Regions from separate parts of the Homo sapiens genome. Here all the other regions are linked to region 3. Evidence: fine-mapped expression QTL. A gene starts in region 3. Each other region holds a variant in brackets. All regions are shown on one strand. Distances are from middle to middle. Region 1 overlaps RIPOR2 (RHO family interacting cell polarization regulator 2). Region 2 has its middle 45 kb from the start of RIPOR2. Region 3 holds the start of RIPOR2 (RHO family interacting cell polarization regulator 2). Region 4 overlaps RIPOR2 (RHO family interacting cell polarization regulator 2). Region 5 has its middle 73 kb from the start of RIPOR2. Region 6 overlaps RIPOR2 (RHO family interacting cell polarization regulator 2).

The links. PIP is the estimated chance that this variant, and not a neighbour inherited with it, causes the effect. A credible set is the group of variants that fine-mapping cannot tell apart.
Region 1: its variant is the best candidate, but not a certain one, in a credible set for the expression of RIPOR2 in whole blood (INTERVAL, PIP 0.89).
Region 2: its variant is the best candidate, but not a certain one, in a credible set for the expression of RIPOR2 in whole blood (TOPMed, PIP 0.59).
Region 4: its variant is the best candidate, but not a certain one, in a credible set for the expression of RIPOR2 in testis (GTEx, PIP 0.78).
Region 5: its variant is the best candidate, but not a certain one, in a credible set for the expression of RIPOR2 in esophagus muscle (GTEx, PIP 0.51).
Region 6: its variant is the best candidate, but not a certain one, in a credible set for the expression of RIPOR2 in B cells (Fairfax 2012, PIP 0.52).

What each region holds. Positions count from the first base shown.
Region 1 is chr6:24,806,272-24,811,346 of GRCh38, reverse strand. It overlaps RIPOR2 (RHO family interacting cell polarization regulator 2), which reads left to right. Exons shown (of 22, transcript NM_001286445.3): 21 at 1,540-1,630; 22 at 4,874-5,075. The coding sequence ends at 4,974. Among named protein-coding and RNA genes, the nearest start is that of ARMH2, 9.9 kb to the right of the region's middle. The variant G/A (reference allele first, on the strand shown) is at 2,502.
Region 2 is chr6:24,978,412-24,983,486 of GRCh38, reverse strand. It overlaps a transcript of RIPOR2 not described here. Among named protein-coding and RNA genes, the nearest start is that of RIPOR2, 45 kb to the right of the region's middle. RefSeq lists an enhancer at 2,179-2,749. The variant A/T (reference allele first, on the strand shown) is at 2,133.
Region 3 is chr6:24,934,020-24,939,094 of GRCh38, reverse strand. It overlaps RIPOR2 (RHO family interacting cell polarization regulator 2), which reads left to right and starts at 3,135. Exons shown (of 22, transcript NM_001286445.3): 1 at 3,135-3,257. The coding sequence starts at 3,197. It overlaps LOC105374981 (a long non-coding RNA gene), which reads right to left. Exons shown (of 3, transcript XR_007059514.1): 1 at 5,031-5,075; 2 at 4,725-4,849. RefSeq lists an enhancer at 2,253-2,422.
Region 4 is chr6:24,897,863-24,902,937 of GRCh38, reverse strand. The region is part of intron 1 of RIPOR2 (RHO family interacting cell polarization regulator 2); the gene reads left to right. Among named protein-coding and RNA genes, the nearest start is that of RIPOR2, 36 kb to the left of the region's middle. The variant C/G (reference allele first, on the strand shown) is at 2,197.
Region 5 is chr6:25,006,207-25,011,281 of GRCh38, reverse strand. It overlaps a transcript of RIPOR2 not described here. Among named protein-coding and RNA genes, the nearest start is that of RIPOR2, 73 kb to the right of the region's middle. RefSeq lists a silencer at 2,064-2,216. The variant C/T (reference allele first, on the strand shown) is at 2,189.
Region 6 is chr6:24,818,221-24,823,295 of GRCh38, reverse strand. It overlaps RIPOR2 (RHO family interacting cell polarization regulator 2), which reads left to right. Exons shown (of 22, transcript NM_001286445.3): 20 at 4,671-4,754. Among named protein-coding and RNA genes, the nearest start is that of ARMH2, 22 kb to the right of the region's middle. RefSeq lists a silencer at 2,254-2,382. The variant C/AC (reference allele first, on the strand shown) is at 2,112.

The DNA.
Region 1 (5,075 bases), 130 kb after region 3:
CAGGAGAATCGCTTGAATCCAGGAGACAGAGGTTTCAGTGAGCCAAGATTGCACCACTGCACTCCAACCTGGGCGACAGAGACTCCATCTCAAAAAAAAAAAAAAAAAAAAAAAAAAAGAATGAGAGAAGGCCACACCTTAGAACTTGCCAAAATCTTGGAAAAGAGCTGCAGGCCTGATAAAGAAAGGAATTAATACCTCAAAAGAAAAAGTTAATGGCCTGTGATCAAAAACAGCTCTAGGGCCAGGCATGGTGGCTCATGCCTGTAATCCCAGCACTTTGGGAGGCTGAGGCCGGTGGATCACCTGAGGTCAGGAGTTTGAGACCAGCCTGGCCAACATGGTGAAACCTCATCCTTACTGAAAACACAAAAATTAGCCAGGCGTGGTGGCGCACACCTGTAATCCCAGCTACTCAGGAGGCTGAGGCAGGAGAATCGCTTGAACCCAGGAGACAGAAGTTGCAGTGAGCCAAGATCACGCCACTGTACTCCAGTCTGGGTGACTGAATGAGACTCTGTCTCAAAGAAAAAAAAAGAAACAGCTGTAGGAAATTTTGCCTTGTTACTTGGTTAAAAAAAAAATTACCTTCAGGTGCCCAAATAGAAAGCCCACAGTGATTGCTATTTGGGTGCTTTCCTGATATCCAGTGATATATCAGTGACAGATGTCTGTGATACAGACAAAGTAAATAAAGACATAAGGATACAGTGATCTGCATGGGTTTTCATACTCTGAATCCACTAGACTGTAAATTCTTGAGGACCAGAACCATGTCTGGTTTACTGTGGAATCTCTCATGCCTTATGAATAGTCTGGTTCATGGAGTGCTCAATAAATATTTGTGGAACAAACAAATAGAAGAATTGTCATTAATGGCCTTTACCTCCTCCTCTATTTTAGCATATAAACTAAATAGTAAGAATTTTTTAATTAGAGCCATTTTGGAATCAGTGAGATTCAGTGGAAAGAACCAGGGAAAATGGATTCTACTCTGGAAAAGCAAGCTCGTCACTTCACTCCTCTAGACCAGGAGTGTGCTGTGGAATGAGGAATTTAGCTGATCATCAGAATTCCTGAAAGTAAGAACTCTGGGCCCCATCCCAGGAAATTCTGATATAGTGCATCCGGAGTGGCACCCAGGAATATTGGGTTTCAGACACTCAGCTAGGTTTGACCCCATAGGTAAAGTGGTTTTTAGCATTCCTACCAGCTGGCCGGGCACAGTGGCTTACACCTGTAATCCCACCACATTAGGAGGCCAAGGCAGAAGAATTCGACTAGCCTGGGCAACATAGTGAGACCTCATCTGTACCAAAGGTTAAAAATTAAAAATCAGTCCTGGCTACTCAGGAGGCTGAGGCAGGAGAATTGCTTGAGCCCAGGAGGTCAAGGCTGCAGTGAGCTATGATTGCTCCATTGCACTCCAGCCTGGGCAACAAAGTGAGGCTAAAGTTCCCACCAGTTGTGAAATGCCAAGTCTCGTGGTACTCTAGACCTAAATGTCAAAACACGATTTAACCTATTTTTCCCCCATAGGCTACTGAAAGCATTAAAATGCTGGTGACATTGTGTCAATCTGATACTGAAGAAATCAGAAATGTGGCCTCAGAAACCCTCTTGTCTCTGGGTGAGTTTTATTGTTGTTGTTTACATGATTGTTTGCTTCTGGCACTCTCTAACGGATGTTCCCATTTAGATGTTCCCTTCTCCAGTAAGGAGAAGTTTCATGTACCCTGTTTAGCAGTTTCCCCGCTGTAGGCTGTCTTCTCACACACAGAGTACGAAGAACTGATCAGTGTCTATCTCACCCCAACTCCTTGTTCTGTCTGGATGCTGAGAGTGAACTATATTGTCTGGAGACTTTCTATATGGATTGATCAGTCTGTGTACTATTTAGAATCAAGAACACAGAAGTCAAACCATAAAGCAAAGGCAATAGGAATCCAGGCTGTGTTGCCAGGTGGGGTTGACATTCCCTGGAGGACAGAAATTGGGTGAGGTACCAGAGATGCATCCCAGGGAATGCTGTAAATCCCCAGGTATCTCAGCCTCACCCTGACTCCCAGGTTAACCTCTGACTGCCCTGTGGCCTCTGCCCATCTGAGCCCTGATACCTAAGAAAAGAATTGGAGTACTTATTTTATTCTGAAATATCCAGATAATCCTTCCTCTTCACTTTATTTTATGAAGGTTCATGCCTAGCAGGCATTATACATTTATTCTTTTTTGGGGACTTGGGAGGGTGGGGAAAGCCTTTCTTAACTCTGTATTAAAAAGTATAAATAGCTGGGTTTGGTGGCTCACCCCTGTAACCCCAGCACTTTGGGAGGCCAAGGTGAGTGGATCACTTGAGGTCAAGAGTTCGAGACCAGCCTGGCCAACATGATGAAACCATGTATCTACTAAAAATACAAAAATTAGCCAGGTGTGGTGGGGTGCACCTGTAGTCCCAGCTACTTGGGAGGCTGAGGTAGGAGAATCACTTGAACCCAGGAAAC[G/A]GAGGTTGCAGTGAGCTGAGATCATGCCACTGTATTCCAGCCTGGGTGACAGAGCAAGACTCTGTCTCAAAAAAAAAAAAAAAGAAAAAAGTATAAATAATTATTATAAATAATTTTACTTCAACAACACAATCTTAAAGTATAAAAACTATGCTCCTAGAAATCCTCAGACATAATCCAATCAATACTGCAGCTTAGAAAAAAGCTACCCTTGTTTAGTGATACTAACTTAACAACATGAAGAAGAATCTCATGGCATTTATAATCACTGTGAAAATCCCATTTATTGTTAGGCCCTCTTTCTTACAATTATGGGTTTAACAAGGCTTCATTCTGCTATTGAATATATGATTTCTTCCACAGAAATCTTAGCCAGTATATATTTGTTTAAAGAATAAAAGTTATTCCTTATGGTTGTATTAGGCATAGAAATTATTTAATTCTCTAAAAATGTACCAAGGTATTATTAGTTTAAACTCCTTTATCCCTTCATATTCTAAAATAACCATGAAGGTAAGCCAGGCGCTTATAAAGCATAGCCAACGAAGCTTCTATTTCCAGTGTAACCTAAGGAAGCTGATCCTACAGAATGTGCCCCGGGCCTCACTGGAGCTGTGCAAACAGCAGCATCTCCAGAAGCCATCACCATACCTGCTTCACCTTAGCTCTTCATGCACACTGCTCATATCAGCCCTGGGCCCTCTCACACCACCAGTGTGCAGTGCTCAACACTGGCTGCACATTTGCCAGGGAAGCTTAAACAATCTACTCCCAAAGATTCTGCTTTCATTGGTCTAAGTGTTCCTTGGCATCAGGATTTTTTAAGGATTTTTTGAAGCCTCCCAGGTGATTCTAATATAAAGTTTGAGACCCCCCTGAAGTCAATATTATGAATCTTCTTTGACCCTAATACACAAATACTGGCACATTTTTCTCTTACACAAATGACTGAATTAATATAGTGAGGATAGTATTTTCAATAGGAATTGATAAAATGCCCTATGACAAAGGGCAGAAGGTCATTGCGGGCACTTAAAGGACTCAGGGCTGCAACTATTTACCAACTAGTATGGAATGATTTCGACATTTTAACCTAGAGCTGTCCAACAGATCCCTCCATGGTGATGGGATTGTTCTATATGCGCACTGTCCAGTATGACAGCAGCCATCCTAAATGGCTGTTGGGCTGTTCACCTTTGCCACCATGGAGGAACTGAAGTTTTAAGTTTACTCAATTTTGAGGATAGCTGCTCCTTGACTTACAATGGGGTTACATCCCAATAAACCCGTTGTAAGTTGAAAATACTGTTAAGTCAAAAATGCACTTAATACATCTTACTTGCAGAACATCATAGCTTAGCCTAGCCTACCTTAAACATGGAGTCTCTCTCTATCACCCAGGCTGGAGTGCAATGATGCAATCTCGTCTCATTGCAACCTCTGCCCCCGAGTTCAAGCAATTCTCCTGCCTCAGCCTCCCAAGTAGCTGGGACTACAGGTGGATTCCACCACACCCAGCTAACTCTTTTTTTGTATTTTTTGGTAGAGATGGGGTTTCACTGTGTTGATCAGGCTGGTCTCAAACTCGTGACCTCAAGTGATCCACTCACCTTGGCTTCCCAAAGTTCTGGGGTTACAGGTGTGAGCCACCACACCCAGCTGAACTTCTGATTAGGCACAACTATTTCCATCTTTGTCTCACTTGCATTACATGTATGAAAGCCTGCTTCTTATCACTTGTCTTTGCATTTTATTTTCTCATTTTCTAAATCATTTTTTAAAGTAGAAAAATAGAACAAAACATTAAAATTATTTGCAATTGCATCCTAACTGTTCAAGGTGGCGTTACGGACAAAACTGAACTAGCTGGTGGCTGGTAGAAGGCATCTCTGTATGTTTACATAGTAAAAAGTAATTTTTAGCTGAAGTTTGAAAGCCTAAGATTGATTTTACCACATATCATTTAGATGTATCGATATATAATGTATACAAGTAAAAGTTATGTAAAAGTTCAGTGCATTAGCCATATTGAAATCCCTAATGTACTTAAAATATAATCCATACAATTGCTCTAAAATAAATCGATTATATGAAATCATCAACATCAAATGGCCATAAGACTTCTACTCTGTTTCATACCCTGGCATTCTTTTGGTCTCTGGCATTAATTAGCTCAAAAGTTCTTGGTTGTTCTAAGCATTACCTGGAAAACAATGACATAATTAGGAATAACAAAAGATAACTTTTCCTTACCAAAAGTTAGCATAGCATATTATAGCAACCCATCCCTAAACAAATGGCACTATGTTACTTTGAGTAATTAATAAAAACGTTGTTTGAATTGGTATTCATGTTTAATGTTCTGTATTTAGGAGAAGATGGGCGGCTGGCATATGAACAATTGGACAAATTTCCTCGAGACTGTGTTAAAGTCGGAGGTCGTCATGGAACTGAAGTTGCCACAGCCTTTTAATTACAGGTTAACTGCCTAACAGCTGTCTTAATATCTGGCCCTTTTCATCAGGATGGTGCTGTGGTTTGGGCTGGAAATTGTTTAGAGCCTGAGAGACACGA
Region 2 (5,075 bases), 44 kb before region 3:
CCGCGCCTGGCCTCAGGGCTTTAATATTAAGGGATAAGTGGAGAATGGGTACTGGGGGACAACTAGCTGTCTTTGCCATAATTAGAACCCAGATCAGATTCCAAAGCTTGTATGATACTTGCCTTGTGTATACACATATATTACGATTAGTCATTTTGTTTAAAAAGATGAAGTTCTGGAAATACAGCCTCAGTAGTGAGGCCATATATACATATATATGTATACGTGTATATATATGTGTGTGCCTGTGTGTGTGTGTATATATGTATGTGTGTGTGTGTGTGTGTGTGTGTACGTGTTCAACCTAAAGGAAAAAACCTGAGGCAAAATTAACATAAGTAGAGAGTTTATTTGGGCCAAGTTTGCGGACTGCAACAACCCAGGAGCATAGATTCTAGTCCCCTGAGTAGATCCTCCAATTAGCAGCAGTTACAAGCAGGTTTTTAAAGGAAAAAAGAAGAGGTAGTTCCTAAATTGTTTACCAAGAATTCACATTAAAATAACCTAAGCTACTGATTGGCTGTACATTGGTCTTAGTATCACAAATTCCAGAAACATGAAGACAATGAGTGAGGCAGGGAAGAAAAGAAATAACAACATGTCTTTAAACAAGTGCTCCCCAGGCAAAGAAAGGGGTTCCCAGTGTAACTGAAATCCCATACTCCTGTCTCTCTGGGCCAGGTAAATTTTGCATACCTTACATAATGCAGCCTGCTCTGAGCTATTTTTCTTTTCTTAATATTAGATCGTTTTTAGTGGAGGTATTTCACATTTATTAGGACCTTATTATGACTATCTGACAAACGAATATATTGTACCCATTTTATATGTAGAGAAGCATAGGCACATAAGCCAACTACTTTTATTTGATTCTTAGGAAGCCACAAAGTAAGCAAGTCATTGGGCTCAAATATAAGGAAAAAAATGTTCTTGGCTTAATAAATATTTGGTGCCTGAATAAGTGATAAGCTCACTTGTCCTCAGAAATATGTAATTAGCAAAATGAAACATCAGCAGAGAATGAATCTTACTAGGGCAATAGTTACAAGGCAAGCTGAGTCACCTAGAAACTAAAAAAGAAATCTGCACTAAATTAATTTCATTCACATTCAGTCACACAAACTACTGAATAATTCATTTTGTTTGAATAGACAGCAGAACTAAAAGAATGTGGATCCTGGAAGTAGAACAACCAAACAAAACTATTATTCCTTTATTTTGCTTTATACAAAGCCAATGATTGTTAACAGCCTTTGGAAAATGGAATTTTGAGAAATGCTTTTGGTTTTCATTTTCTATACTTTATGGACAAAATATATGGATTTTTACCACAAACATGTTTTCTTTTATTACTTAAAAAAGAGATCTCTTAGAAGTTAGAGATTCTTAAAACATTATTAATCTTTAAAAGGTTGCTACTGAGACAAGTACCTTGGATTAGGGTCATTTTTCATCAGTCCATTCCTCATAAGGCAAAAAGTTGAGGGGAGGCCCAGCTCAGGGTCTGTGAAAGGTCTGCCAAACTCTGCTTTTGCAGTGCCAAGGGACAAGGTGAGCCCCCTTCCTCTCTATGCCATGTTAGGCGTAAATAAACATAATTAGCATTTATTGAATTTTTTGTCAGAAACCCTTCTAAATCTCTTTCAAGTAGCACCTCATTGAATCCCTTCAGCAAGGCTGTGAGGTAGCTGTTACTATACTCTTTATTTCATAGATGACAACACTGTGGAACAGAGAGGTTATGTGACTTGCTCAGGCTTCCACAATTAGCAAGTGGCAGAGGTAGGAATTCGACCCTGGATGATATAGCTCCAGAGTCTATAGTGTTACCCACTAAGGCGAAACATACCAGAGTGCGGGTGACTCAAGGCTTAATCAGTTGAAGGGCTGGCCAGGAGACCCTGGGCCCACTGAGTACAGATTTATACTCCCAGTTCCGGAACCAGAGCAAGCTCAGGAAAGGCCTAGCTGGCTAGCATAATCAGATGCAGGGCAGTGGGGGCTGTGGGGGTCAGGAGGTGGGCAGCAGATGCCAAAGGCAAGGAAATGTTCCCTAGAGGTGGAGAGAGAAAGCCTTTCCCTCCATTAGGCTTCAGTCTTTGTCATTCAAACTTATCTCTTTCCTCCCCTAC[A/T]TTCAGAATTCCTCCTGCTTTACAGAAGAAAAAGTGCGCAGGGTAAGCAAGAATTAATGCTGACTGTTTTCATTTTAGTATCCACTATGGCTCTATGGGGAAGGGAACCTGGGAAAATATTTGTTTGGGTTGATAAGTGCTTTCTACTTACCCACGAGGCAACTCTAGGCTCACAGGACATAGAAAGCAGCCCTTGAAAGCCTTATCCAAAGATAAAATTCTTTATAACCCTGTTGGTTTTCATCCAAACTCTACACCCTTTTGTTCAAATGAAGGAGAGCAAAAGCAGTGGCAACATAGAAAAGAATTTCAACTATTTGAGACCCACCCTTGTTTTTGCATCTCCTACAGAGGTGGAGAAAGTTATCCCACAGAGAAGTAAAGCAGAGGAATTTGAGATAGAAGACTGGGACAATGAATGAATGTGTTCATTCAGAGAGCCAGAGAAAGCATGTGTGCCCCAATCTCCATTCCTCTGTTTCTGTCCAGCTTCACTCACCTTCTCTGCTCCCATCCTGGATAAGCTCACTTACCTTCCCAGAGCCCAGCTGTATCAGGCCAGAGGAAGCCTCTGATGATTTGGCGGCAGGGAGATGGGAGTGGAGCAAAGCACCAATGCCCAAAAGCCCCCTGTGACTCCACAACACACTTGCCTTTATACCCACTTGCACCTGGGGATGTGGCAGGTGCTTCTGTGCACCTGGAGAGTTACAGAGCTCTGTGTACACATGACTCCTCATTCACACTTTACCATATAGGTGTGAGGGGCCAACTGCCTTCCTAATTCACAAACCATAGTTGCACCTACGGCTCTGACAAGAGCAAGGAGAGAGATGGAAACCACAGGCTTACTCATGAACTTATCTTCACATCAGGGAATACACAGTACTATTCTAAAAATCCATTTATATAAAAATGCATGTATCTGTAAAAGAGTATGTTAGGTCACATTTTAGATGACCAGGTGTCTTGATTTCACTCCCTCTTGGTGATATGGGAAAATATAGATGTCCAAGGAAGCTTTCCCACTATAACAGGCGCAACTCATATCACTTCAGTAGATAAATCGGGAAGCACATTATTGCTTTGTAATTTCTGAATCTGGACAAAGCTGAAAGGAGAGTAATTTAAAGTCATTCATGGTGTTTATTGAGATTCTTAGCAGCTTCTCAATGGCTCTAGAAGCAACAGTGCTGAGTTTATGGAATGGCAGAGAAAACTTGGATTGCATTAAATATTCAAGGCTGAGGAGCCTATCTAAGATGAGATTCTTTAATGCATCCTAGCAGAGGGCTTTAACCTGGGCTTCTGTAAGTATGGGCTGTCCCTTTTCCACTTGCTTCCTTTCCTACGGTGTTATATTTAGTGGTCAAAAACATGGTCACTAGCCAACCTACAGCAGTATAATTTATTAAGTTCCTACTATATGCTTGATGCTTTACTTACATAACTTCATTTAATGTATATGAAGGATGTATCTCTATTTGTATCTTGCAGAGCTAAGAGACTGGTTACTTACAAAGGCAGTAAGTAGTTAAATGGAGATTTGAACCCGGATTTGTCAGTTTTAAAACCTGTGCTTTTAATTGTCATGCTATACCACCAACTTGCTTCCAATAACTCAAACTAGCCTTGAATTTTCCAAATTGAAACTCATCATATGGAAGACAGATGGACCATTTATTTGGCTCTGGGTCCCAACATGGTGTGGAGGAAGTTGTGAGAGCTGGCCTTTCCTTCCCCAGCAAAGCAGAACTGGAGGCTTCCCATTAACATGCATTAATAATTCTTGCCCAGAATTCTGCAAAAGTCTTTTTTAACACCAGATAGTTGGTTACAGTAAAAAGAATGCGATTCAATTCATATTAATTCTATCAGGACCTTTTCAAAATGGGGAGCTTTTTGTGTCAGGTTTGCAGAAGACACATTTCTGATGTGGACTGGGATGACTTGGAAGAGGGTGTGGTCTCTCCCACAGGACAGTTAATGTGCAGTGTTGTGTCTTTTAAAAACAGAAAAGGAATGTCATGTCAGGGCTAAGGAAACAGCAAAAAAAAAAAAAAAAAAAAAAGAATTTCCCTATCATTTCAAGCAACTATTGCATGTTCCTTCTTTGGTTTTCGGTTTTCCCAGGAATAGACCAGTGGGAGTGGAGCAGAGAGGGGATCTTTGCAACCTATAGATAGGATGCACGACAGCTGAGAGAGGAAAGTTAAGCCCATTGTTTCTCATTATCTCATAAGGAGTGATAGAAAATGTTGAGAGGCCAATTATAAAAGGAAGTTGGGGATGAGAAGGAAGTAGTTCATGAAATAGAGAAAATAATGTTAAACCTTTCTCCAAAAATATGTGAGTCTCAGTAGTGTGCACCCCAGGCCTAAGCTAATATATGCAGTAGGTGAGGTTTATATCACTAGCATTCTGTCACGATTTCCATTCTGGGACCTTTTCACATCTTGGCCTGAGGTGTTCACTTGGCTTTGAAATTCTCCCACCAGATGAAGTAGGAATGAATGTTTACTGAGAATTTACATGTTTCATCTATTTAAATCTTATAACAGCCCTATGACAGTGGAACAAAAATTATTCCCATTTTATGAATGAGGACACTAAAGGATAGATTGATTAAATATCCTGCCGAAGGCCTCACAACTAAGTAGAATTTAGGATTCAAACCTAGGCAGTCTTATCGCAGAGCAATATTCCCAACCTCCATTCACCATGAAGCATTAGTGACCAAAAAAAGGATCAAACTTAACCCTAAATAATAACCCTCTGAAGATGGAATTTCAGAGATTGTACCATCTGGTATGAGAAGATACATGGAGGTTAGGGAGAGAAGGGGACATCTTTTCTTGGCCATTTGGTTGAGCCAACTGGCTTTTACATGCAAAGACCTTTGGTATAAATAAGACCCTGATCCTAAAGTAGTTACTTAAAGTG
Region 3 (5,075 bases):
AGGGTTGATATAGGAATTAAGTGAATCAAAGCACTTAAAACTGTTGCTGGCACTCTGTGTTAGCGATTACCTACATTTTTTTATTTGCTCATTTTGGACACTCATATAAATATAATTATACCATTTATAATTTTCTGAGACCTTTCAAAGTCAATATTATGTTTTTGAAACTCATCCATATTGATGCATGCATATGTAGTTTATTAATTTTTCTTTTTAGTTAACACATCATGCATGTATGTCATATCTCTCTAAGGTAATTGTAAACTTTGGAGAGCAAGAACCATGTTTTCTATCCTCTGTGCTTTCAAGGAGTTCGTGGTAGCATTTGTGATTTGTTCTTTGAGATGATTAGCTGTGTTTCTGAGATATCTAAATTGGAGAAGAGGAGACTGAGGGAAACTTCCTAAGGGTTATTGAGGTTTTATATGGAGTGTGGTGACTTCTCATTCTCTATCCCCATTGAGCCTTCAATTTGGGAAATATCCTAAGCGTCCCTGTGAGAGACTTAGGCGTATAATTATAACTGGGTATTTACTGTGTACCATGTACTGTGTCAGCTTCTTTACATAAATTATCCTACTTAATCCTCAAAACAAGCCAAATGAGAAAGTATATTATTTTCTAGGACTTCTGTAATGAAGTACCACAAACTGGGTGGCTTAAGCAACAGAAACTTACTGCATCACAGCTGTGGAGGCTAGAAGTCCAAGGTCAAGGTGTTGGCAGGATTGGTTCTTCTGAGGGATGTGAGGGAGAATCTCTTGCAGGCCTCTCCCCTAGCTCATGGTGGTTTACTGGCAGTCTTTGGTGTTCCTTGGCTTGTGGATCTCTGCCTTCATCTTCACATACTATCCTCCCTATGTCTATGTCTTTGTCTAAATCTCTCCTTTTTATGAGGAAGTTAGTCATATTGGATTAAGGACCCATCCTCCTCCAATATGATATAAGTTCATCCTAACTAATTATATCTTCAATGGCCCTGTTTCTAAGTAAGGTCACATTCTGAGGTACTGGGGGTTAGGACTTCAACATATGAATTCAACAGGGGAGACACAATTCCACCCACTTAAAATGAAACAGGCCTACAGAGGTTATGCTAACTTTTTGAAGTGGAATAGCTAGGGCCCTCAGGTTCACGTGGTAACCAGGTAGTTCTGAGGTGGGAGGTGAGGGAGGTAGTGCAGGTCCCCAAGAGCCACGGGGATGCTGCAGTGAACTGGACTGTGTGCAGTCACTCCCATAAGTTGTCCAGACATGAGGTAACAGAGTGAGCTCTGGAATTAGTCAAATCTGCCACTCACTAGCTGCCTGATCTTAGGAATGTTTTTCAAGCCCTCAGAGCCCCCATTGCTTCATCTGTAAAATGGGATAATAGCACCCACCTCATGAAGTTGTGGAGATTAAAGGACATAGGACAGTAGTTGAGAAATGTAGTGATTATCAAAATGGACACCCATCCTCTTATCCCAACCACACAAAAGAGAGCTTTAGTCCACATCCAAATTTCCTACACCTAGGCCCATTTTAATTAATTTAATTTATGTAACTAAGTGCAACCCTTGTCCAGAAACATCATTCAAGTGGGGATCATGGTAGGGGGTGGTAAAAGGGTCAGAAAGGGGAGATGCAAAGGAGAGCTAGAGAAAAGGATAACTCCAGTTCTCTGCCTGTCAGTGTGTCTCAAGGTGGGCATTATTGGTATTTGGAGCTGGACAGTTCTTCCTGTTGAGCTACTGTTCCATGCATTATGGTAAGGTTGATATCCCTGGGCCCCTGAGTGCTAAGACATTAAATACCAGTAATAACCCCCAGTCATTGTGCCACCCAAAACACCCCAGACATTTCCAAGCTCTCCTCTAAGGATGGTTCCAGCCCTGATTGACAACAATTGGTGATCCCAGCAGGACCCAAGCTGTACACTGTCTTTGGGAACTGCTGCAGCCACCAATGCAGGGATGAACTGACTGTTGCTGCTCAGTTAACCCTCAGTGTCTGATTCCTGAATTCCTCTGGGGTGATCCCTTCTCACTGCTGGATTTCTCCAACCCTGTTGTCCACAGTCTCTTCTGGGAGAAAATGGTGCAATTTCAAGGTTGCAGTTACAGGAGGAGGGGACAGTTTCTCTAGGGTAACACTGGGAGTATCTTCAAAACCATGCAGTAAATAAAGTGCCAAAAATAAACACCTTGGGTCAACAGCTCCTCACTGTCATCTCCATTTGCATTTTCTAAGCTTCTGGCCACCTAAGAGATCTTACAACACAGTGGAGTGCTCTGGGAAACCCCGAAATGAAGTCTCAGTATTACTCAGAGAGATGTGTGTTTGTTTGTGCAGCCAGACAGAATTTGGCACACGTTGGGTAGCTCGATATGGTGATGCCAGCCAATGGTGCTCGCGTAGAAGCTCAGTGTTCACTCATCCCTTTGGGAGGACTGCTTTTTGAGTTACATTTTCTTCTTTCTCCTTTAGTGATACAGTCTGAAGTATCAAACTGAGTAAATATTGTGAAATGCAAGATGTTTGACCAAAACCAGTTATCTATTCATTGACTATAGATTTAATCGAGCCACATAAAGCCTAGATATGGTTCAGTTTGGTTTAAATGCTGTAAAGTTTCCAATCCTTAAATGCAAGAGGTTTGAAAAAAAGAAAAGAAAAGAAAAGAAAAATGCAACTATTACTGAGCAAAATAAAAGCTCTGTCCTCTAAATGCCTGCTTTGGTTTAACATAGTGGCTTGCTTTACTTTCAGATAAATTGTAATTGAAGCAAAACCAAGATATGAGAAATATGAACTCCCTCTTTCAACAAAACCCATTGTGTTCAAATTCATAAGCAAGAAAGTTAAGCACCCACCTTCCTCTTTAAGGAAATATGAAAGTTGTTGCTTTGAAATAGAATTCATTGCATTCAGACTTTGAGTGATATCTGTATTCATATCCAACCGGATCTGCAGCCCTCTTCAAAAAATTCTTTCTCCTCAGTGGTGAGAATTACCCCACCTGGGATTCACTCTTCACAAGGCTCAAGAAGCCTATTCATATGAATGAAACTGCTTTCTTCAGGGCAGATGCGGAAGCTGCCCTCCAGAGGGCTTGGGCAACCCAAGGAAAGGAAATCACCTCGGTCGGCAGTGTGACTGCTGAGACTGCCGGGGCTGCTGCCTGCTGCTTCTCGCGCCTGTCCTCTCCAAGATGCAGTTTTTTGATGCTGAGGAGCTCCTGGTCGATGAAGAGGATGATGTTTTTGGTGAAGGTAAATGCATCTTTCTGGCAGGAGGCTCTCCGGTCTGCTTTGCTTTGTTTTGACACCACTGGACACTTTTGCCCAGCTTGGGCAAGGACTTGAGTATTTTGAAATGATAAAAACAAAGCATCCTGAGTGAGGTAGTGGCTGCAAATATCAACTTAGGCACTGAAGGAATACACAAGGCAAGGGGTGGAACAAGGGGTTGAGTCATTCCCGCAAATACATTTTTTAAAGTCATGACTAAAATAAAGGTTTAGTTTAGGCTGGAAAATAGTACTAAATTTTTTGCCTTGTCTCTCTTCTGTGCTATCTCTTGTCTAACACCTTAAGGAAAGCCTGTCACAGTGGTTTGAGCACAGCAGGGCTGCTAGGGAAGAAGTTAAATAAATGGACCAGGAGTGGTTTTTCATGGTACCATGTTGCTTTGATTTGCACTTCTCTCTTTCTGTCTCTCTCTCTCTCTGTCTCTCTCTCTCTGTCTATCTTTCTCTCGGTCCTTCTCTTTTTTTTTTTTTTTTTTTTTGTTGTTGTTTTTTGAGACAGAGTCTTGCTTTGTTGCTCAGGCTGGAGTGCAGTGGTGCAATCTCAGCTCACTGCAACCTCCGTCTCCCGGGTTCAAGTCATTCTCCTGCCTCAGCCTCCCAAGTAGCTGGGACTACAGGCGCCCACCACCATGCCCAGCTAATTTTTGTATTTTTAGTAGAGATGGGATTTTGCCATGTTGGCCAGGCTGGTCTTGAAATCCTGACTTCAGGTGATCCACCCTCCTTGGCCCCCCAAAGTGCTGGGATTACAGGCGTGAGCTACCATGCCCGGCCTGGGTCCTTCTCTCTTACTCTTCCTCACACATACTTGGCACTCCAACCCTCCATTCCCTTTTCCAATTTTCTTTTTTCCCAAGTCGGGATACTGGAGCCCTGGTAGCTTCCAATCCCCATTGGCACTGCTCAGTTTTCTGTTCTCATCTTGCAGCTTTTCCATGACTTGACCTATCCACTGGAATTTAACTGTAAAGGTTGCGATTTTAAAGGGATGATCTAGTCATTGGATGGATGTTTTGTTCAAATGCTGCCTATGAGATTGGGCTATAGGCAAAAGCTTTTTTAGAATTTGGAGCCACCTAAATAAAGGAAATTTGGACTCAAGAATCTCGTGAATTTGATTATTTTCCGCAAGAAACTACGTCTAGCAATTTTTTAAAAAACTCTATTCAGTAATTTTTTAAAAGGAACAGTAGTAAGGTTTTTGTGTATGTGTAATTACCCAAGCAATACAAGTTCGCTGAAGAAAAATTAGAGTGTCGCAAAGAACCCCTTGTAATCTAGTCATGTAGAATGTAATCATGGTTAATATTTTGATGTTGTCTTTCTGCTATGTTGTTCTAGCTACAGAAATATTTAAAATCATTAGTTGGGTTTTTATCACAACTTAAATCAATTTGAAGAATATCTATTGAGCTTCGCTGCTGTTTACCAAGTTATCATTCTGTTGTGTTACTTTGATGGCAGGCGTTTAGGCCACCAACACCTTGAAGTTTGATCTTAGGCCCCATTCTTCAGCTTTCACTTCTTAAAGATGTTTCCTCTTTAAGCAAACACCTTAAAGAGAAAATTTATACTTAGATACTAACTCTTTTGAGGACCTGAAAAATGCTCACAACTATGAAGATAAGCTTAGAACGGAAAAATTGGCAATCATTCACCCACACCTCCCTCCAGGAATGGCATTCCAAAACGCCCAGCCCACATTTCTTTGCCTATAGGAATTTTGCTCTTTTACATCTGGCTATGATACTTAAGAGCGCCCTCTATAGGCTGATGCACT
Region 4 (5,075 bases), 36 kb after region 3:
TCAGACACAGAAAAAGGTCAAATATGACCACAGTGTTGTGTTATTCCTATCAAATTTCTTCCCTGTGAGGTAAATAACATGATAGTAGCAGTCACAGAACAGCCAAATCTAAAGCTCACCTTCTCCTCCTGCAGAACATTGGTCTAAGAAACCCATTCTTAAATTGTATATTAGAAGCAAACTGTTGCACATTTTGGTTTGTTTGCCGGGGGAGGATTTGGGAAAGTGGAGTTGGTACCATTGAGAAGGAGTTTAGTTTCAAACTGGCTAATCTAGCATGTGAACAAACAGGAATCCAAATAACTTGTTTTCAAAGCAGAGCTGTCTCAATGTAGCAAGTATAGGTAGTGCAAACCTTACTTCAGGAAGTGTCCTCAAATTGGGGTCCCACTTAGGAGATGGAGAAAAAGAGAAGGAAAAGTGCCAGTCGCGGTGGCTTGCGCGTGTAATCCCTACACTTTGGGAGGCTGAGGCGAGTGGATCGCCTGAGGTCAGGAGTTCGAGACCAGCCTGGACAACATGGTAAAACTCCAGCTTTACTAAAAATACAAACAAATTAGCCGGGCATGGTGGCGGGTGCCTGTAATCCCAGCTACTCAGGAGGCTAAGGCAGGAGAATCACTTGAACCCAGGAGGCGGAGGTTGCAGTGAGCCAAGATCGCGCCACTGTACTCCAGCCTGGGCAACAAGGTTGAAACTCTGTCTCAAAAAAAAAAAAAGAAAAAGAAAGAAAGAAAAAGAAAAAGTAATTGGATTGACTACTATGCTCTGACACCTGCAGTACATTCTGCCACAACTGGCGATCCCTTACTTCCTCCAGCCAGTTGACTGCTGGTCTTTCCTTTTCTACCGCTTCTCTTCTGCACAGGCCTCCTTCTTTGATACCTAAAGTCTGCTGTTCCTCAAGTTTAAGTTCAAGGTCCAGTTGAGAATAGTCATCACGATACTTTAGTCCCAGTGATAGTGCCTTATATCTCTGTGGATTTTTGCAGTTTTGAACAACTTTTACAACCATGGTCTCATTTAAACCACAGAACAACCCTGTGATGTAATATCAATGTCTCTAATTTCACAAATTAGGAAACCAAACGAATGGATTAGCTGGTTAGCACTGAGATGTTCTGACTCCTCACTGGGCGCTCTCCACCCCGGGAGGTCCACTTAGCCAGCCTGGAGGCAGCAAAAACTGTGTTTCTCTGGAGGGAGGAGAGGTGATTTGTTCTTCCTGCCCTCCCCCTTCAATCACCAAACTATGGCCTATTTGAGGTATGACCGTTTTCTCTTACAACACGACTAATGTCCTCAGTTGGACACTTGGTTTTGCAAATGGAAACCTGCCCCTGTAATGACATAAAGGTCAGGAATTGCTCCCTTTTCAGGCTCCCATGACATTCCAAAAAAAGTTTGCCCTTTGAATTTTGTCATAATGGTCTTTGGCCTAAAATAGGATAGAAATGGCACGTGGTGTTTCTTTTTTAAGGGTCATTTTTTCTTTCCAGATCCTCAATGTGTATTTCTTCACATTAGGATGTTTTCCAGATGTAGTTTTTGTTTTGGTTTGGTTTTGTTCTTTGGTTGTCACAAAATGGCTCTTTCCCTCACTGATGGAAGAAAATAACCAAAGCAGGAAGGGACTAAGGGGCTGCATTAACTCAAGATGTTTTCATAAATGTGAATATACAGTAATCAGGCTAAAGGTACTGAAAAAAGCCCTATTGAAAGGATGCATAGTTTTTCGTGTAGGGGACTAGTTTCACTCCTTTATAATCCAGCTGGGGGAGTATAAGCCTGGCCAAGCCTGGCACATAAGATTCTGCATATGGTAAAAATGACCTTCCCTCTATCATCTCCCTTTAGGTGAATCATAGATCTTGAGTGTAGGTACACAGGCAAGGCCTTCCTGGGCACAAGAGGAGTTTGAAGCCATCGAAATTTTCAAAAAATAAATACGAAGTCTAAGGCAGGTGTGGTGGTCTGTGCCTGTAGTCCCAGCTACTCCAGAGGCTGAGGTGGGAAGATCATTTGAGCCCAGGAGTTCAAGTCCAGCTTTGACAACCCCGTCTCTTAAAACAACAACTACCACAACAAAAAGCAAGACAAAACAACAACAACAACACATAAATGCAAATTCTGAATCACAGATATGTGTACACATATTTCATATTGCATATTGACAGAAAACTACAGAGTCTCACT[C/G]TGTCACCCAGACTGGAGTGCGGCGGCCAGATCACAGCTCAGTGCAGCCTCGATCTCCTGGGCTCAGACGATCCTCCCATTTCAGCCTCCTGAGTAGCTGGGACCACAGGCTCATGCCACCACACCCAGCTAATTTTTGTATTTTTTGTAGAGATGGGGTTTCACCATGTTGGCCAGGCTGGTCTCGAACTCCTGGGCTCAAGCATCTCCCTGCATCGGTCTCCCAAAGTGCTGGGATTACAGGTGGGAGCCACCACGCCTGGCCAAGCTTCTCATACAATGAAACATCCAATCTAAATAAACATGTTTTATATTATTATAAAAGTAATAGCTATCACTAAATAGCATTTCTAATGTGCCAGGCACATGTACTAATTCATTGAGTGCTCACAACACCCTGAGGTAATTACTCCATTTTATAGATGAGAGAATGGAGGCTCTGAAAAATTACTAAGAGGCAGAGCTTGGTTTTAAACCTAGGCCGTCTGGCATCAGAGTCTGGGCTGTGCTGCGGCTGTGGATGTAAATACACAGACTCCAAATTCAGAGCCACAGTTCCCACAGCAACTGCCAGTTTGTAGCATGTTCAAAAAGCCCGAGTTCTCCCACATAACTTAGCTGAGTTGTGGCTGCCAGATCTTTTGGCTTAGCAACTCGAAACAGAGACTGTCCACGTAGGCTGAGGTTCTCAGTTGATACCAAGGCGTTGATGAGACTCTTCAGGCTTCTATTATAATCAAGAAGAAGATTTTTCACATCCTCCATCTGAAAGGTTCATTATTCCAGCTGGGTAAGCTGTGTGTCTGCAAAGATGCCCTATCATCAGGAAATGAAATGGGCACTTTTTCTCCAAGTAAGCAATGCATGCTGATAAATAACGCCATATCAGTGGCGTGCCTTCTCCTTCCTCTTGCAAACGATTGACGCCTCAGAGATCTGAACAACCCCACAAAAGGGGAGGAAAATGGAGAAAAAACAAACTTGAGAGAAAAAAGGAATCATTCCTTTTCTTTTGTGAGGACTTTTGTCTGATCCGTGCCCACATGTAAAGTATCCCTTGATCAATTTTGTCTTAATTACTGAATGTAGGAAAACAAGCTCATTGTTAATTCATGCAGTTTTAATTTATGCATAGGAGAATTATGCAGGATAATTACCTGCAGTTGAAGGAAAATGAATAGCGTCAGATGTGGTTAATTCACGCATGGTTTACCCTTCTATCTCTCTATCAGAAAAGATTTAAAGTGGTAACCAATCTGAATGATATGCAAAATTGCATTGGTTTGCTAAGTAGAAGTATTTTTTTTATTTGCATCACAAATAGAGTTCTCAGATTTGGACTGACTAGATTTGAATATAATTTCCAGAACAATAGCTGTGATTCACTGACTTAACTCATATGTTATCTCTTCCAGAAGTGCCCATTTTTCAAATCAGTGCAAAAGAAGCTATCTTCATGGGCCCCATGTTAGCCTGAGTATAGTTTCCTTTATGAGGATAATTCAATGAGAATGATAATTATTTCCTATATCAAGATTTGTGGGAGATTTACGGTAATGATCACACTACTTGTTCCCACATTGTCCCTGAACCTTCATGATCCAGTGGCTTCCAAAAACTGAAACAAACAGCTGGAACAAATTATGGGGCAATGAATGGACATCAGTGGAAATTTCCTTGTGACTTTTGTCAAGCAATAGATAGCTGCTAAGGCCTCTTTGAACTCACACCTAGTAATTGAGAGAAGGCTAAGAGGTGGTTCAAGTTTACTGAAAAAAAAAAAAAAAAAAACTACTCCCTGATGTTGAGTTGAGACAGGTTACAATAATGAACAATTTTGAAAGGAGAATACCAGTATCAAAAGGAGGAGCCAGAGAAAGTAAATATGTTTTTGTTATGACGGAGCAGTAAATTTTACTCTGAGCTTCCTTGTAACCAGGCAGAAAGGGGAACAAAGGAAGTTATCACCTAAGTTCCTGCTAGCAGAAAGATGGGCATACAAAATACAGCAGTTCCTTAAAGGACACATTCCCTTAGTGATGAATTGTAAAAGTAATGTCTTATATGGGAACGTATACACGGGAGGTTAAATTGAGCTAGTTCATTGCAGTGAAGTTCAAGAGGCAACACCTTGCATATTGATCTTCATTCTTATTTTCTTATCCCTCCATCAAGCTCTCTAAAGATCCAAAAAAGGACAACCAAAGGAAATTTCACAAAGAGAAAAAGGAAGATCTCTATTTGGCTCTCAATTGCCCTTTTTTGAGAAAAAGTGATACAACTTATCTAAGGCAACTTTACTTGCCATAATCAGATTTTGTCTGCAGAAAATATTAGCAGGGTGAGTTGAAGATGACTTACCTCCTTGCCCCACACCCCCTCACAGAGGACCCCAGCTTAGACAATGGAGTTACAACTTCATAATAATCATATTACTGTGCCAGAACTTATCGCTTCAGATTATAGGTTCTAGTAAGACCAACTTAAGTAGGAAAACACAGCAAAGTATAAAAACACAAAGCTTTGTTTAGGTAAGGCCATTTGTCTTTTTACCTTTGACCTTAGTGATGATGATGATAATAATAGGATAATAGGTGTCATTTAACTGAGTGCATATTTTGTGCCTAGCATTACACTTTGGCTTGATGTTTCCTTCCTTCCTTGCTTCCTTCCTTCCTTCCTTCTTTCCTTCCTTCCTTCCTTCCTTCTTTCTTTCTTTCTTCAGGGTCTGGCTCTGTCACCCAGGCTGGAGTGCAATGGCTCAATCTCTGCTCTCTGCAACCTCCGCCTCCCGGGTTCAAGCAATTCTCCTGCCTCAGCCAGGCATGGTGGTGCGTGCCTGTAGTCCCAGCTACTTGGGAGGCTGTGAATCCCTTGAG
Region 5 (5,075 bases), 72 kb before region 3:
CACATATATACCTACATGTACATATACATATGTGGACATATATATAAACCCAATTCCTAATTTATAAAATTTATAAAATATTAAAACATGTAACCACCATTTCTGTTGGCATTCCTAGCCTCCCTCCACTGCTCATTGCCAAATTCTTCTTTTCCAATGAGTCATTGTAAAAACAAATTTTTTTTCATAGATTCTGTAGATGAAAAAGTGAAGAACAGGATGAAGTAACATGGGAAGATATTTGAAGGCAGAAGATATAAGGGACAGACTCAAGCAGGGTCCCAACTAGAGAGAACAACCTTTCCCAACCACCCAGGCAGAGAAGCCATTCTTTATCTGTGTCCCTATGCTACTTGCACACACTTCTAGTGTAGCACGCATGGGGATCATTTGTTGGCAGTGGTGTCTTCCCCTATAACCTATATGCTCCTCAAAGGCAAGAAGTCCATCTTATTTATTTTTGTATCTCATCCTGTCTAGTGTCCCTTGTAGCACCAGAGACCTAGCAAGCACTAAAAAAATGTTGGCTTAAGAAACGTTTACGGAGTGGAAGTGGAAGGAAATCTTTTCTTTCCTGCTTGCCTGAATAATATAGGATCTATAGCACAGGCTCCTACTTATAAAGCCCATATAAATCCTGGCGCTCCCATAGCCCAATCCTAGTATAGAGTTCTAGTCAAAAAATGCCATCTAACAAGAAAAAGTAATTTTAAAATAATTCTAATTTTCACTTGAATCTCTTGAAGGACACTGTCTCAGTTCATTTTGTTTTGCCCTAAAGGAAAAACTGTGTAATCTGTCAAGTAAAGAGGCTTATCTGGCTCATGGTTCCGCAGGCTGTACACGAAGCCTCGCACCAGCATCTGCATCTGGTGAAGGCGTCAGACTGCTTCCACTCAAGGCGGGAGGTGAAGGGGTGCCAGCTCTGTAGAGCTCATGGGGTGACAGAGGAGGAAAGGGGGAGGAAGGAGGGCCAGGCTCTTTCTAACAACCAGCTCTGGTGGGAAGAGGGGACTAATATAGTGATGATTCAATCATCCCCAGGGAGGGCACGAGACTGTTCATGAGGGATCTGTCCCCATGGCCAAACACCTCCATTAGGCCCCACCTCCAACATTGGGATTAAATTTTAACCTGAGGTTAATGGGGGACAAACATTCAAACTATAGCAAACATTAAAAAGAATTAAACTCATAACCTACTATAATACCTGTAAACATTTTCCATTTGCTTCCTCTCCAGTTTTCTCTTCTCTTGAAGCTGTTCTTGATCCTCTGTCTCTCTGAACTACTTCCTCCTAACTCTCTCCTGGAAGTTCTTCTGGGCATCCGTTCTCCCATGCTCTCCTGCCTCATGCCACACCACAGGGCCTTTCCTGCTGGCCACAAAACCCACTTGGCCCAGGGCAGTAGAAGGCTGTGTGGCCTCTTTGCTTGGAGACAGTTGAGTCCCCACCTCCACCCACAGGAAGTATCGTTCTTTCCTTATCCTGCTTTCCTCCCAAAAAATAATCATAAAGAATTTCTGGAATTCTATTATCTGTTAATATTACTTGTTATCTCATGAGTTAGATAGACTTTATGGGAGAGCTTGAAACTTGACCACCATTTAAAACACGGTTTCTGCGGGAAAGGCCACCATACATACTGAACCGCTGATTTACAAGCCAACTTTTGGAATACAACTTATTCATAAGCTGGGAGCCATCTGGGTGGTAACGAGCTTTGTGGTTTCTTCTTTTGGTTTCATGGTTTTGAATGAAGTTTGATCAAAGTTAAAATGGAGGAAACATTTCCTACGAATTCATTGGTATTTATCTGGCAGAAGTAAATATTTCTGGAGGAATATGGACTTCAGAATGGTAAGACGATTTCTAAGGGATTTCTCTTGTTTAATCGACCAAATTAACAACTCAGGCTGGAGTATTTAGGATTGAGTTACCAGAAAGAGGAAAGTGAATTCAGAGAAACTGCTAATCAAGATAAAGGTTGAAAGGCAGAGAAGCAAGGGATAAAGAACACTGTATTCTGTCTGACCTGCTTACAGAAGCAGGTCTTCTCCTGTTTTTGACACTGGTCTTAGTAAGCTCCTCTTCCCTTTGTGCTCCCTACTGCGAGGGGCTTGCCTTTCCCCACGAGACCAACATCACTCGCCCATGCTTTTGAAGCCAAGAGCAGTGGGATGCCAC[C/T]AGCAAGACCCTGCATCAATTAGAGCTCCAGTCTCTGCTTTTGTTGCCTTCTCTGAGGTGAGGCAGCAGTCAGCATGGACAAGAGCCATCCTGCATCAGTGTCCTGGCTTCATCCCTAACAAGCTACATGAGCTCAAGCAAGCTATTGACCTCTCCCTGCTTAGTTTCCCAATATACCAAGTGGAAAGTAGCACCTGCTGAACTGCCAAGAACAGTGCTTCTCAACCCTGGCACTTCCCTAGAGGGAATGGAAGGAGACCCACAAATGCCAATGGCTCCTCCAGAGCCATCATCTTGCCTATCTCCTCATCAAATTTCCTTGGCATCCTGACCAATTTCTACCACTTTTATTCTTGGAGCAGATGTCAGAGAGGCCACTTTCTTTGGAAATCATCTCCTGCTCCCTTTCATATCTGAAATCTCTTATTGTATTGGTGTCCTATTGCTACTGTAACAAATTACCCAAAATATAGTGGCTTAAAACAGTGTAATTTTATTATGTTTTATAGGCCAGAAGTCCAAGTCTTATAGGCCAGAAGTCCAAAATGGATCTTACAAGGCTTAACTCAAAGGCTGCATTCCCCTCAAGGCTTGGAGCCTGTTTCCTTGCCTTTTCCAGCTTCTAGAGCCACCTTCGCTTGTGGCCACAGCATTTCAGCCTTTGCCACTGTCCTCACATCTCTTTCTCTGACTGACCCCTCTTATGGGGACCCTTTTGAGTACATCAGGCCCTCCTGCATGATCCAGGGCCATCTCCCCATCTCAAGACCCTTAACTTAGCTGGGCACGGTGGCTCACGCCTGTAATCCCAGCACTTTGGGAGGCCGAGGCGGGTGTCTCACGAGGTCAGGAGTTCGAGATCAGCTTGACCAACATGGTTGAAAAAAAAAATGCTTAACTTAATTATATCTGCAAAGTCCCTTTCACCATGCAGTTCTAGAGACTAGCATGTGGATGTGTTTGGGGGACCATCATTCAGCTACCATGCTTGTCTTGGCATCACAGTAAAACATGAGGCAGATTCTTACTACTGATTTTAATAAAAATAGTTTTAAAATATTTTTAAAAAATAAAAATAAGGCAGAAACAGTTCCATTTGACATTTTCATTGGAGGTATTTCCAGTGTTTCCAGCATTGGTTGCCTGGGATGATGCCACTAAACATGATAGGAAATAGAGGTCGGGGGCAAACTAGGGGTGAGGGCAGGTGGGGCTACAGCATGCTTATTTGTTGGTATGTTGTGTTTGAGGTCCCTCCCGGATATCAATGTAGAAATGTCTACAGCAGTTGGAAGAACAGCTCTGGGGCCGGGGAGAAAAGCCTGGGCATGGATGTAAATGTGGAGTTATTGACAGAGATGATACAGTTGAAGCCATGGGGGTGCCTAAGATCACCGAGAAGGAAGATGGGGAGGGCAGGAAGGAAGGGCCAAGAGTGCAAGGTGTCTGGGGAAGAAGAATAAGGTCAGAGAGCACAGGACTTTTAGAGAGGCCAAAGGAAAATGAAGTAACAATTATAAAGATAATAATTGCCTGCATATTGGTAAAGTGAAACTTCATTTGATCATATCTTGCTTATTATGTACATAGGGAAAACCCACTCATTTTATTTATGGTAACATTTTTCAGTATGTCACATTCACAAAATTGACCAAGTGAGGATTTGTCATAGTATTGAGCGCCCGTGGTGGAGCAGGCAGTGTCAGTGATGAGAATGTGAAAATGAATCAGCAGGTCCTTTGTGCTCACTTCTTCAACCCACAGGATAAGACCAACAATATCAGAGAAGTTACCTCCTCTGAGAAGCAGGCCACTACTCAGGTGGACTAGAAGATCCAGCTTACCGTGTAGACACAGAATAGCCTCTGTTCATGGTATTTTGCCTTTAATAGGCTTTTCTTTATCTATTGAAGATATTAAGATACTGGCCATTCTCTCCAGCAGTATTAAGAAGACTAATAATAATAATAACAAAAGTCCATGTCACCATAGCCAAAACAGAAAACAGAGCAGAAACTTGGTGAAGTTAATCAAATAATTGCTGCAGGCCCTTGGTTATGGAGAACTCTCCCTGCTTTTGGTTGAGCAAGAGACCCTCCCAGAGCCTGGCACTGGGATTCCCACAGCGTTCCATTCCAGAGCCACAGGGTCCCAGCAGGCACACCACACAGCATTTGAGTTCCAGCTCCTCTAGGCTTTCAGCCATGGCACAGTTTGTTTGTTTTTCCCCAAAGCAAAGTGCTGCCTGGCAGCTGAAAAGAGTGCATGTTTCCTCTTTCTCAACCTGGCTTCTTATATAGCTGTGCTATATTTGGCAGCTCAGTCTTACTTCCTATTCCAAATGCTTCCTCTTCCTGTGGGGAGAATTCTCAGAACTCTCGTGGCTCTGGTAGGTGTTATCAAAAACTTGTGCAAGGCCACTTGGTGGTACAGTCCGTACTCCACAGAGCCACCTCCCAGCTCAGTGACTCACCTGTGCCTGGAGGACACAGGGGATGAACTCTTCAAAAAAAGAACAGAGAGTTCCAGGACACCTTTCACTTGAATTGTGATGAAGGTTTAATAATGAACAAAAGCAGAGGGAGATTGGAATTTGTGGGGGTGAGGTGGCAAGAGAGATTTGAAAAGACAGATGAGACTTTAAGGCCTGAAGACAAATACAATTTATTCCTCAAAGAAAAAGTAGTAATTATTTGTTTGAGATCTATCTTCCCCTGTAGACTATAAGAATCATGAGAACCATGAGAGGCCATGCCATTTTTTGTGCATTGTTTTAACTCTAGTAAAGTGCTGGCTGGTATTATAGTAGGTGCTCAATTAATGTTTATTGAACAAATGAATAAACGAATGAATGAAGGCAGAAAGAGGCATGAGCATTGAAAAGTAA
Region 6 (5,075 bases), 120 kb after region 3:
CCCAAAGCCTGAACCCTTTCCATATTTTCTTATATGGAATAGCAAAAGTTATTACATTAAGTTCTTAAAACTAGATGCAAAGCACTAAAGCAACACAAAAATGCCTCTGTGAGAGCTGGTGTCACTGTAAACCCGGAACCTTGCTTCAAGGATCATAGCTATTGAGACAAAATAAAAGTTGTGTGTGTTGGTTCATTATTTTATGCTTTTCCCCACACCTAGACAAGTAGGAAATATCCACTGTCCTCCAACTATACTGTTGCATTCAGATGTGGTTGCTTCTTTAATTATCCAGGACTGGTCAGAGGAGATGCTGGTGGCCTCTGCATGGTGACAGGGGCTTCTGGCTTTATAATGTGCCTTCTGTTTGCTTCCTGGAATTGTTATGAATCTAAGCAGCCACCAATTCTTAGGCAACCACTCAAACTAAAGTGAGCAACCTTATGACTCAACAGGCATTTAACAATAAATAAATAGGCCGGGCGCAGTGGCTCACGCCTGTAATCCCAACACTTTGGGAAGCCGAGGCGGGTGGATCACCTGAGGCCAGGACTTCGAGACCAGCCTGGCCAATATAGTGAAACTCCATCTCTACTAAAAATACAAAAAATTAGCTGGGCGTGGTGGTGGGCACCTGTAGTCCCAGCTACTCGGGAGGCTGAGGCAGGAGAATTGCTTGAACTCAGGAGGCGAAGGTTGCAGTGACCTGAGATCGCACCATTGCACTCCAGCCTGGGTGACAAGAGCAAGAACTCTGTCTCAAAAAATAAATAAATAAATAAAAATAAATAAATACGTAAAGTGAGCAACCTATTCAGTAACCCCAAAATTAACAGGGTCAGCTATCATCTCTGAAGTTAACATAGACAGGTTTGCCCTATCACCTAGCATGTTAGCTTGGCACCTAACAAGTACCTAGTCATCTCTTCATGGGACAAGTGAATTGATATTTTCAGATATATTTACACACATGGTTACAATATTTGTGTTCCTGAAATGAGGGAGACAAATATTTCCACCAACATAATCAAACTAAATGAATTATGACTCAGCATTTTGCACAGACACCATCGATTGGTTTCTGACCTCCAGGGCCAGCCCTTGTTAAAATTATAAAGTAGATGAACTTCAGCACAAGACTCCTCTCTATTTTCCCCTGCCCATTTCTCTGTCTCTCAGGTTTGTTTTGGATTTTAATGGCGGGATCCTACTTTGTTACACAAGCTGGACATGCACCACCCAGGTGGTGCAATCATAGCTCACTACAGCCTTGAACTCCTGCCATTTCCCTCTTTTACTCATATCAAGGGACTTGAAGGCTAACTATCAAACCATAGGTTTACCCCTTACCAAAACCACATATTCCAAGACTTAAATGGGTGATCACAACTTAAATTGTCCTTCCTCTCGGGCATGTTTGCATTATAACAATGCTTCAATAGGGATGAAATGCTAAAGATGACCTTGGTGTATATCCACCTCTGGAAATGGTAGCTTTGGAGGGGGTTGATGGCAAGTGGCACTTCAGGGACAGTCACCTTGTTCCTTTTGTACTGGAGGCTAGTCCCTGTGTAGCTGCCCACTTGTGGATTGAGGCTTATTTCCTCCCCTTTTGGCTGCTCACCCTCAAGTGAGTAGAGGCCAAAAGGCAAGCCAGAGAGAGGTTTTCAAAAGCCAAAGCCCAGGCTCTAACTATTTAGGTCTAGTAAAGAGCTAGTTACTGTTACTGCTTTTGTTCTTGCTGTAATAACCTATACTGCATATCTTTGTTTCCTTTAAGAGTGTTAAAACTTTAAGAGTGTTAAGCCACAGAGCTGGGCACTGTGGCTCACGCCTGTAATCCCAGCACTTTGGGAGGCCGAGGCGGGCGCATCACCTGAGGTCGGGAGTTTGAGACCAGCCTGACCAACATGGAGAAACCCCATCTCTACTAAAAATACAAAAAATTAGCTGGGCATGGTGGAGCATGCCTGTAATCCCAGCTACTTGGGAGGCTGAGGCAGGAGAATCGCTTGAACCCGGGAGGCAGAGGTTGCAGTGAGCCGAGATTGCACCATTGCACTCCAGCCTGGGCAACAAGAGCAACACTCCATCTCAAAAAAAAAAAAAAA[C/AC]AGTGTTAAACTGGCTGGGCGCGGTGGCTCACGCCTGTAATCCCAGAACTTTGGGAGGCTGAGGAGGGCAGATCATCTGAGGTCAGGAGTTCAAGACCAGCCTGGCCAACATAGTGAAACCCCATCCGTACTAAAAATACAAAAATTAGCCGGGTGTGGTGGCAGGCACCTATAATCCCAGCTACTCAGGAGGCTAAGGTGGGCGTATGGCTTGAACCCAGGAGGCGGAGTTTGCAGTGAGCTGAGATGGTGCCACTGTACTCCAGCCTGGGTTACCAAGAGAGACTCTCTCAAAAAAAAAAAAAAAAAAAAAAAGAGTGTTAAACCATATGTCCACACAAAAAAACCTTGTACACAGATGTTCATAGCAGCATTATTCATAATAACCAAAAAGTAGAAACAATCTGAAGGTTCATCAACTGGTGAATAAATAAAATGTGGTCTAGCCATATAATGGAATATTTTTTGGCCATAAAAAGAAATGCAATCCTAATACATCCTTCAACCTAGATGAGCCTTGAAGATACTATGCCAAATGAAAGAGCAAGACATAGGAGGCTACATATTGTGTGAATTCATTTATATGAAATGTCCAAAGTAGGCAAATCCATAGTAATGGAGAGTAGATTAGTGGTTGCCAGCGACTGGAGAGAAAGGGTCTTGGGAATGACTACTAATGGGTACAGGATTTCTTTTTGGGGTAATGAAAATATTCTGAAATCAGATGATGGGGATGATTTGTGAATATACTAAAAACCATTGAATTATACATGCTGTAGTCTAAATATTATGGTATATAAATTATATTTTCAATTTTTTTAAATGGAATTGTCCTATAAAACTGAGAAAACAGGGGCCGTGTGCAGTGGCTCACGCCTGTAATCCCAGCACTCTGGGAGGCCGAGGCGGACGGATCACAAGGTCAGGAGTTTGAGATCAGCCTGGCCAACGTGGTGAAACCCTGTCTCTACTAAAAATACAAAAATTAGCTGGGCATCATAGCATCCGCCTGTAATCCCAGCTACTAGGGAGGCTGAGGCAGGAGAATCGCTTGAACCCGGGAGGCGGAGGTTGCAGTGAGCCAAGTTTGTGCCATTGCACTCCAGCCTGGGCAATAAGAGTGAAACTCCATCTCCAAAAATAAATAAATAAATAAAAATAGAAAATAAAAGTAATTCAGACAAATAGCAAGAAATGCACAATATAGCCCAACAAAATCAAAAGTTAGTCCTCTCTTTCCACCCTCAATTCTCTTCAAGAGTAATTAAGTTTCCTATGAACCAATATGACATATAGTGATTCTTATTCATTTGAATTAATGTTAAGTACTACACATTTTATCAACCATTTAGGAAGAAATTAGCTTGGTAAAAATAAGACAATTGGCCGGGTGCAGTAGCTCACGCCTGTAATCCCAACACTTTGGGAGGCCGAGGTGGGCGGATCACAAGGTCAGGAATTCAAGACCAGCCTGGCCAATATGGTAAAATCCTGTCTCCACTAAAAAAAAAAAAAAAAAAAATTAGCTGGGCGTGGTGGTGGGCACCTGTAATCGAGGTAGGAGAATCTCTTGAACCCGGGAGATGGAGGTTACAGTGAGCCGAGATCACACCACTGCACTCCAGCCTGGGCCACAGAGCGAGATTCTGTCTCAAAAAAAAAAAAGATAATGTACTTTTATGCAGAGATTTTTTAAACAGAGCATTCATTTGCCATGTATCAAACTCAGCAAATCTCAAACTGACATTACCACCCTCCTCACTGGAATGTACTGCCTCCTCCTGTCTTCCTTATTTCTGACTGAATACCTTTTTTTCAATCAACTTCCCTACTGAAATCTAAGCCATCATTTCCATTCCAGTTCAAACATTTTTGTGAAACTTACCCTGGCACTCCGTAAGATGTCTCTTCTCCAAGTGACTGACTTACCTTGTAGATTTCTTATGGGACCTAATACATTTCTTCTCTTCAGTTCCTTCTAAACAGTCTTAGCATTTCTACTACATCTAAGGGCTCCTTAAAAGCCAGAATCATAACTCTCTCCCAATTTTATTTAATAAATTGATCCCTTATATTCTCCTAGAGTCATGGACTCTAGGAGAATATTTCAAATCTTGGAATGACACATGAGACAAGGGGCAGGAGCTTGCAGGCCTTTATGATGGGACATAAAGAAAGGGATTAACACCTTAAAAGAAAAAGTTAATGATCTGGGATCAAAAACAGCTCTGAGAAATTTTGCCTTCCTCGTTACTTGGTTTAAAAAATTACCTTTAGGTGGCCAATAAAAGCCCACGGTCATTATGTTACTCAATAAATTGATCCCTTATGTTCTCCTAGAGTCATAGTAGATCTAGGAGAACATAAGGGATCAATTTATTGAATAAACGACTCTTTTAATTAATATGAATTTCAATGGCTTTTTTTTTCTTGCTCTGAAGGTAGTGCAAAATGTGTAGGTTATATGCTATAGTTTATCTCAGAGAGTAAGAATGAGGTATACCTCTTAAACTACGAACAAACCAAAATGCCTTCATGAGGTCCCTCCTTCTCTTTCAGGCCTTGCTCTATTACTGTGAAGCACTAACAAAGACAAACCTCCAGCTCCAGAAAGCAGCTTGCCTGGCTCTGAAAATCCTTGAGGTAAAGCCCAGCCTTGGAGCTCCCCTGGCAGCTCAGCTTGGAGCCAGGCTAAGCTGAGTGTATATAACAGCTTTTCTTTCATGTTTGAAAGTACTTTTTTAGCAGTATTTCTTGTCTTCTTTGCACCGTATGTTAGTTTTAGTATTTTTCTCCCTTAAACAGTAATTACATGTGACTTTGTTTTGTTAAAGTCAATAAGTGGCAGAAAGCAATCATGTTTTGCACTAGCCCAAGGGAACCAGTTTGCCTTTAGGTCAGTATTAGAAAAGTACATCTTATTAGCCGGCACAGTGGCTCATGCCTGTAATCCCAGCATTTTGG